2 linked regions of the Homo sapiens genome follow. The protein of the gene in region 1 purifies or fractionates together with the protein of each later gene. This does not show direct contact. Each region holds a gene or a part of one and is shown in the gene's direction. Other genes may lie near its edges. The genes, in order: SASH1 and FOXP1.

The links.
Region 2: the proteins of SASH1 (region 1) and FOXP1 fractionate together in Homo sapiens (co-fractionation; one large-scale study listed by BioGRID). This does not show direct contact.

The regions. Positions count from the first base shown.
Region 1 is NC_000006.12:148,541,535-148,545,356, forward strand, and holds part of SASH1 (SAM and SH3 domain-containing protein 1), read left to right. Parts: intron 1-2,145; coding exon 2,146-3,284; intron 3,285-3,822. UniProt on the Homo sapiens protein: Is a positive regulator of NF-kappa-B signaling downstream of TLR4 activation. It acts as a scaffold molecule to assemble a molecular complex that includes TRAF6, MAP3K7, CHUK and IKBKB, thereby facilitating NF-kappa-B signaling activation.
Region 2 is NC_000003.12:70,971,711-70,975,532, reverse strand, and holds part of FOXP1 (forkhead box protein P1), read left to right. Parts: intron 1-2,856; coding exon 2,857-2,978; intron 2,979-3,352; coding exon of another isoform or gene 3,353-3,522; intron 3,523-3,822. UniProt on the Homo sapiens protein: Transcriptional repressor. Can act with CTBP1 to synergistically repress transcription but CTPBP1 is not essential. Plays an important role in the specification and differentiation of lung epithelium.

The DNA.
Region 1 (3,822 bases):
CATGTGTGTCTCTGTGTACTACATGTTGAATGTAAAATGTATTTCTTACTGGGAATCATGGGAAAAAATAGTTTGAGAGCCATTGTGGGTACCAAAACTAGGGCTAAGGACAGGAAAGTGGGTGTCCAGGATGCAAACCCTAAGCAAGTGCTCACTCTCGGGTACCAGCCCTGCACTCACATGACTCTGGGCATTCACCTCCTTAGAGTTTGTCCTCTGGGCACCTTGTTTGCCTCACTCTAATTCCAATTCTAAGAAGCATCTTGGGGACCTCAGAATTTGAGCCATGATGCCCTGCTATTCAAGGTTTTCTATCAACTTGGGAAGATAGTAGTTCTCCCCAAACTATATATAATATTCAGATAGCCTCGGTCAAGACAGGATGCAAAACTCACCTAGTATCCCAGTACATCCTCAGTTTCAGTAAACATCAGAATCCTTATGTAGCTCATGTAGGTTCTGAAGAATTTTTTTTTCTCTTAATAACCTTTTCATATCCAAAACTTTTCAGGAAATTAATTCCCCCAACTGTTGGTGATTGGTAAGGATCTCACAGATATCACTGGCAGAATTTTTCATGCCCAAATGAATTCAGGTGTACCTGCTGAAGAACTAGATTGCTAGCGAACCATACTTTGAACTCAAAGTAAGTTCAGGGATCTTTCTAATGTAATGCAGAATGCAAAAATGGAACTTATATATATAGTTTTATATTGGGAGTTAAGGGAAAAGAAAGTCATATTTCTAAATTTATGCTAAAGAGGTTCTAATAATTTTCTATTTCAACCCACTTTTAAAATCTGATGCAATTTTTTTTTTCTGAAGAGGTATTTCTTCATTTATCTGTGATGATTTTTCTTTTCTTTTTATGAGGCGGAGTCTCGCTCTGTCGCCCAGGCTGGAGTGCAGTGGCGCGATCTTGGCTCACTGCAAGGTCCACCTCCCGGGTTCATGCCATTCTCCCGCCTCAGCCTCCCGAGTAGCTGGGACTACAGGCGCCTGCCACCATGCCCGGCTAATTTTTTATATTTTTTATGAGAGACGGGGTTTCACCGTGTTAGCCAGGATGGTCTCGATCTCCTGACCTCGTGATCCACCTGCCTTGGCCTCCTTAAGTTGTGATGATTTTTCTAATAATGAAAAGTAGGACCATGGTCAATATCTTCAGTAGTAGCACTAGGCTGATGATCTTTATGTAACAACAATAATATCCTACAAATGCATAGCATGTTGGTGTTTATCAGTGTGGAACATACAGGTGGACAGGGTCAAAGCACACAACAAACATGTTATCAACCAAAAATGTAACAAGGGACAGTGTGTGTGTGTGTGTGTGTGTGTGTGTGCGCGCGCACATGTAAGTACTGATGAGAACAAAGCATTCAGCACATTGTCTGGCCCATGAATTGTAAGTTCTTGGCAAAGCTTATCCAACAGCAGCAGTTTAGTATCAACTACCAGTCGTCAGATAAGTAGATTATGTCTGGTTGATAGTTCAGTTATCAGTCTGGCAGTTGTAACTAGGACTGTTGCTTTGCTGGGACCTAAAACTTTATCAGTATTTTGTAGATTTTCTTTGGCAAAGTACTCACAAAAGTTTACCTGTCTGTGTCCAGGTTGGTTGATTGCTTCTAGGATAAACTTACTAGAAGGAGGGGCTTCAGGGAAGGTGGGATTTGAGTATTCACAGATCACTCTGTAGGGGATACCATTTATAGAACCTGTTGTGAAATTCAGTCCAGCTCTCCTTTTCCATCATGACCTTGAGAAATTGTACTCACCCAACAAATCTCATCAATATGCGGTATGATGATCAGCCTCTTTCCACGTCGATTGCAGTGGGGCACAGACTTAAGCCAAGATTTATTTTACTGCTTGACACAGCGTATTTCTTTCCCATGTAACCCAATTAATTTCAGTCTTCATGATTCCTTTAATAAGACTAAGAATTCTTTCTAAAAATAAAAATGGAACCATAATAACCCTCTATCACCCGATGTCATAAATGGTGATTTTATGTTTTTAGTGTAATTGAACAATAGGATGTGGGTGTTGGAGATTTCAATTATGTTAGCACAACTTTATGCATCCGTTTGATTGATTTGCTTTTAAAATGTGATTGTAAAATATTCCCTTGTCTCACAGGCAAGACTCGGAAAGCTAGCCTCCTATCTGCCAAGTCATCCACCGAGCCCAGCTTGAAGTCTTTTAGCAGAAACCAGTTGGGCAATTACCCAACATTGCCTTTAATGAAATCAGGGGATGCACTGAAGCAGGGACAGGAGGAGGGCAGGCTGGGTGGTGGCCTTGCCCCAGACACGTCCAAGAGCTGTGACCCACCTGGTGTGACTGGTTTGAATAAAAACCGAAGAAGCCTCCCAGTTTCCATCTGCCGGAGCTGTGAGACCCTGGAGGGCCCCCAGACTGTGGACACTTGGCCCCGATCCCATTCCCTGGATGACCTTCAAGTGGAGCCTGGTGCTGAGCAAGACGTGCCTACCGAGGTGACAGAACCGCCCCCTCAGATTGTACCTGAAGTGCCACAGAAGACGACCGCCTCTTCCACGAAGGCCCAGCCCCTGGAGCAAGACTCTGCTGTCGACAATGCATTGCTACTGACCCAAAGCAAGAGATTTTCTGAACCTCAGAAATTGACAACTAAGAAACTGGAGGGCTCAATCGCAGCCTCTGGTCGCGGCCTGTCACCCCCTCAGTGTTTGCCCAGAAACTATGATGCTCAGCCTCCTGGAGCTAAACACGGTTTAGCAAGGACGCCTCTGGAGGGCCACAGAAAAGGACACGAGTTTGAAGGAACACACCATCCCCTGGGCACCAAAGAAGGGGTAGATGCTGAGCAGAGAATGCAGCCCAAAATTCCATCACAGCCTCCACCTGTTCCTGCCAAAAAGAGCAGAGAACGCCTTGCTAACGGACTCCACCCTGTTCCCATGGGCCCCAGTGGGGCCCTCCCCAGTCCCGATGCGCCATGCCTGCCAGTGAAAAGGGGCAGCCCCGCCAGCCCCACCAGCCCTAGCGACTGTCCCCCAGCACTGGCTCCCAGGCCTCTCTCAGGGCAGGCGCCTGGCAGCCCACCAAGCACAAGGCCGCCCCCCTGGCTCTCAGAGCTCCCCGAGAACACAAGCCTCCAGGAGCACGGTGTGAAGCTGGGCCCGGCTTTGACCAGGAAGGTCTCCTGTGCCCGGGGAGTGGATCTAGAAACGCTCACTGAAAACAAGCTGCACGCTGAAGGCATCGATCTCACGGAGGAGCCGTATTCTGATAAGGTATCAAAGGTCCTGGGCCCACCACGTTCACAGGCCTTTGTTTGTAGAAGTCAGGCAGCCAGGTGAGATGAACCCACATCTGAAGCCAGCCCGGTAGCCCGCCCAGTGGACAGGAGACACCTGAATCCACGTGTCCACACCTTACTTGACATGCATGTGTTCAGATATTGACACCACCCCATTTCATCTCTCCGTAGGTAAACCGAGGTTAAAAATAACCTGCATGAAGACCTCTTAGAGGGATTACTAGGAGCAAATAAAATAAATGTGGACAAAAGAACCCTATTCAGATGTGATAATTGTATTATACAGTTATCTGTATGGGTAATGGGAAAAAGATAATATAAAATCCCCCATTGTACCAAAAACATTTAGCTGTATAATGAAAAATTATTTCTCATTCAAAAAAAATGAGATCTACCAATACCAAGTGACTCCAAAGACAAAGCAATGCTAACAGATACAGCAGTACTTTACTCCTGGAAATACAGGTCCTATTAGGATGCATTCCTGAGAGTCCTTTATTATAAAATTCTCA
Region 2 (3,822 bases), on another chromosome or scaffold:
AGCAAAAGACAGAAAAATACATTTCCTCTGTTAAGTTCCTGATAAATTAGCATTTTAAAAGAAAACGAATATAACCATAGAATTAATTCATCAACTTTACAGAGCTGTGAATATCCATTATGGCCCAAATTATCCTTTCATTTCCATTAAGACACATGGGCACTGAAGGGAACCTATGTTCAAAATCTTACCCTCTTTGCCTCAGCCTGCCTTGGAAGATAAAATATGAAAGGATCTTTAGCCATGAATGCTTTAAAAAATTTAGGAAGTCGAAGCATGAGGCAGACATTTTCTTCAGATTGCCTTTTATAAATAGAAATGATGAAATTTAAAAATAATTACCAGTTGTGAATATAATATTTAAGCTTAGATCTTCAGATTGCACTTTTTCGTTTTGCAAACTGCAGGAAAAAGTGTCATTAATATAAACAGCCTTAGATGAAATAGTGACTCATAAATACGTATAATTTTCTGTACGTGTCCTTGTTTGTACCATGATCTTAGACAAAAGATGAAATGCCCAGTTAAGGTTATGACTGAAAAGAGCTTACACATCTTTTTTTTGAAAACTCTTGACTTCTCGTCGCTTTCTGCTTAGATGTGCAGTTTTGGAAAACAGAACTGAAGTTTTGGCTTTGTGTCTTTACTCACATGGTTATATTGCTCAACCTGATCTACAGAAATTATTTTGTCAAAAGTAGCTTTAAGACCTTTCATTTCTGTACATTTTGATACTTATTTTAAAGCATCAAGCAGTGATTAGGATTAGGAGCAATGTTGACTTCTTTTCAAGTTATATCTCTTACATGTGTCATGCCCTGTCTGGATTTTTAAAGGAAATTGGCTCTGTCCGTTTATTTATACCACCTCAATTTTGTTCCAGTAAGTAACAGTAGACCTTCTATTGTATGCCTTTGGGCAATATATTTTTTTAAAATGCAGCCAAATGCAGTGGCTCCTGCCTGTGATCCCGGCACTTCAGGAGGCTGGAGGATCACTTGAGCCCAGGAGTTCAAGATCAGCCTGGGCAACATAGCAAGACCCCATCTCTACAAAAAATTTTTAAAATTAGCTGGGTGTGGTGACACATGTCTCTAGTCCCAACTACTCAGGAGGCTAAGGCAGGAGACTCGCTTGAGCCCAGGAATACAAGGCTTCAGTGAGCCATAATTGAACCACTGCACTGCAGTCAGGCAACAGAGCAAGACCTAGTTTCAAAAAAAGAAAAAAAAAAACTGCTTATTTAGACTAGACTGCAGTTTATATGCATAGAAAATTGTCCTATCAAGTGTATGACATGCCAAATGTTTTCGGTTTAGAGATTTTTATTTTTAAGCAAATCCTTCTTCCAACTTTTTTGAATCAGGAGTGTCCTTTCATAGTCACCTGGGTATCTTGAACCGACCTCAATTATGCTGACATTACTCAAAAACTTTTTGGGAATTTATCCTGTGAATTCTCCTTTCAAGCAATTCATCACACCATGCATTAAAAAACTTGTCTCATTATCTTCTAAATATTCCATATCAGAAAAGAAAAATCATTATGTAGCTTGAATCCTCACAGCCACCAATTGTGATTGTCCAAAAACTGAAGCACCTCTCAGAGTATCAAGATTCACCACCGTTAAGGATAATTCAGGAAGGAAATACTCCAGGTGGCAGAATGGGATGTGTTGGGGGGTGGGGGGGGGGGGGCGGTGTGCAAAACGCTTGTGCAATAGCAGTGTTGCTGGAATTGAGTGAGGACTTTACCCAGTGTGATGTATGTATCAACTTCTCAAGCCCCAATTGAGTCACCTACTATTGAGTCATCTACTTACTCTGAATAAGAAGAAAATTTTAAGTAAATGACCTGAATCTCTTTAGAATGTCTTCATGTCCAGCGTTGAGTCTGGATCCGTAAGTTTAACCAGGCGGGACTAAAGAAATGAAGCCTTGCTTGTTACTGTACCCAGTAAGGGTTGGGGATTCTTCTGAAACCCAAAGGAAAGATGAGATATTAAAAGCTCTTCACCCTTGAGTTGAGATCCTCCTTTTTGATAAATTATCGATGTTAAGGGTCTCAGCTTAGGAATGGCCAGAAAGGACTTTTAACCATAAGCAAGATATGTCTGCAGAAACCATCAACTGTAGGAATATAGTCATTTTGCCATTGAGAGTTCCACTCGTGTTCCTTTGGCATTTACTCAGTTAAAATACTTGCCGATAGTTAGGGCCAACTCTCATATTCTGGAAGGTGAGACATAACATGATAGCTACTGATCTCTTGACCGGGGCGGGGCGGGGCGGGGGCGGGGGGTCCGTTCACCACCCCCCGATCCTTTGACTATACAAGGCGATACTCTCAACGGTAAAATCCACTTTAGAATTCTTCATAGGACCTCTGGAAGTTTTAAAAGCCAGAAGCCATCAAGAACAAAACTGTATTTAGCAGTATTAACCAAGTGTTCCTCTTTCGTGGTTTGAAAAAAATACCCCCTTTTTATGGGAGGTAGGTGGGCTTAAAAAGGGCAGTTTCATACTTTGCATGTGTTGTTTTGAAGTCACAGTAACATTTTCAGATTTGTACTCTGGAACCTATTTTGGGCTTGTATGCATATTAAAAAATATTTCTGCTGGTCAGTTATTACCAGAGACTAGACGAAAATGCCAAAGTACGATTAATTTATAATTTTGGTTTATTTTTGCTTTTGGAAAAGACATCCTTAACCATGAGAAGGTCCTCCACGGGGGTGGTAGCTACAGCTCTTGGGGATGGTTTTACAAATGTGGACTGTTAGGCTGAATTTACTGCTGTTTTTGGAGTCTTTTCTTATAGAAAATGTAAATGTTCTCTCTTTTATACTTGCTGCAGAATGCAGTGCGTCATAATCTTAGTCTTCACAAGTGTTTTGTGCGAGTAGAAAACGTTAAAGGGGCAGTATGGACAGTGGATGAAGTAGAATTCCAAAAACGAAGGCCACAAAAGATCAGTGGGTACGTCCACCATGTTTGAACTTCTTAGCCTAGCTTGGATTGTGCTAACAAGTATAACGTAGAGGCTTTGGCTGCTAGATGGTGTTAGACCAAAGAACTGGTTTCACGTTGTCTCAGTTAAGGGAAGCAAAAAAGCATTTCATCCCTCCTGTTTTGTATACCCACCAGTCCCCCTGCCCTGCTTGCTGGTCTTTGTTGCATCACATGCTAGTAGCTTTTAGGTGGCAATGCATATTAACCCTCACAAACCATTTGCTTATGCTTATTGCATTTTATTTTCTTTTTCCTGTTCCCTGTATTGGATGTCTGTTCTGCCCCCAACCCCGTCTCCTTTTGTTGCCACTCCATCTCCTTTGCTGCTGCTCCTATCCCAGGGTGCCATTCGCACCAACCTCTCACTGCATAAGTGCTTTATCAGAGTAGAGGATGAGTTTGGGTCCTTTTGGACAGTTGATGATGAAGAGTTTAAACGTGGCCGCCATATTCAACGAGGCCGTCCTCGCAAATACTGCCCCGATGAAAACTTTGACGAGCTTGTCGCACAGTAAGAGCCTTTACTTGCTTTTGTTTTTTTTTTCTGCTGTTGCTTTGGCTTTGCATGGTTGACTCATCCCATGTAGTTTTGCATTTCACCAATAGCAGTGCCACAGCTTTCTGCAACGAAACTAAATTGTGTGATTTGTACATGTATTGCTCTCGTTTCTCTTTGGAACACCAGTGCCTTGAATAATGCTTTTTTGACGTCTTTAATGCAAATATTCGTTCTATTTTGATTCAGCAGCTTACGGGGACCCTAGAACTAAATACTTGTGCTTAACCCATAATCCCCCCTCTCTCCCCACCC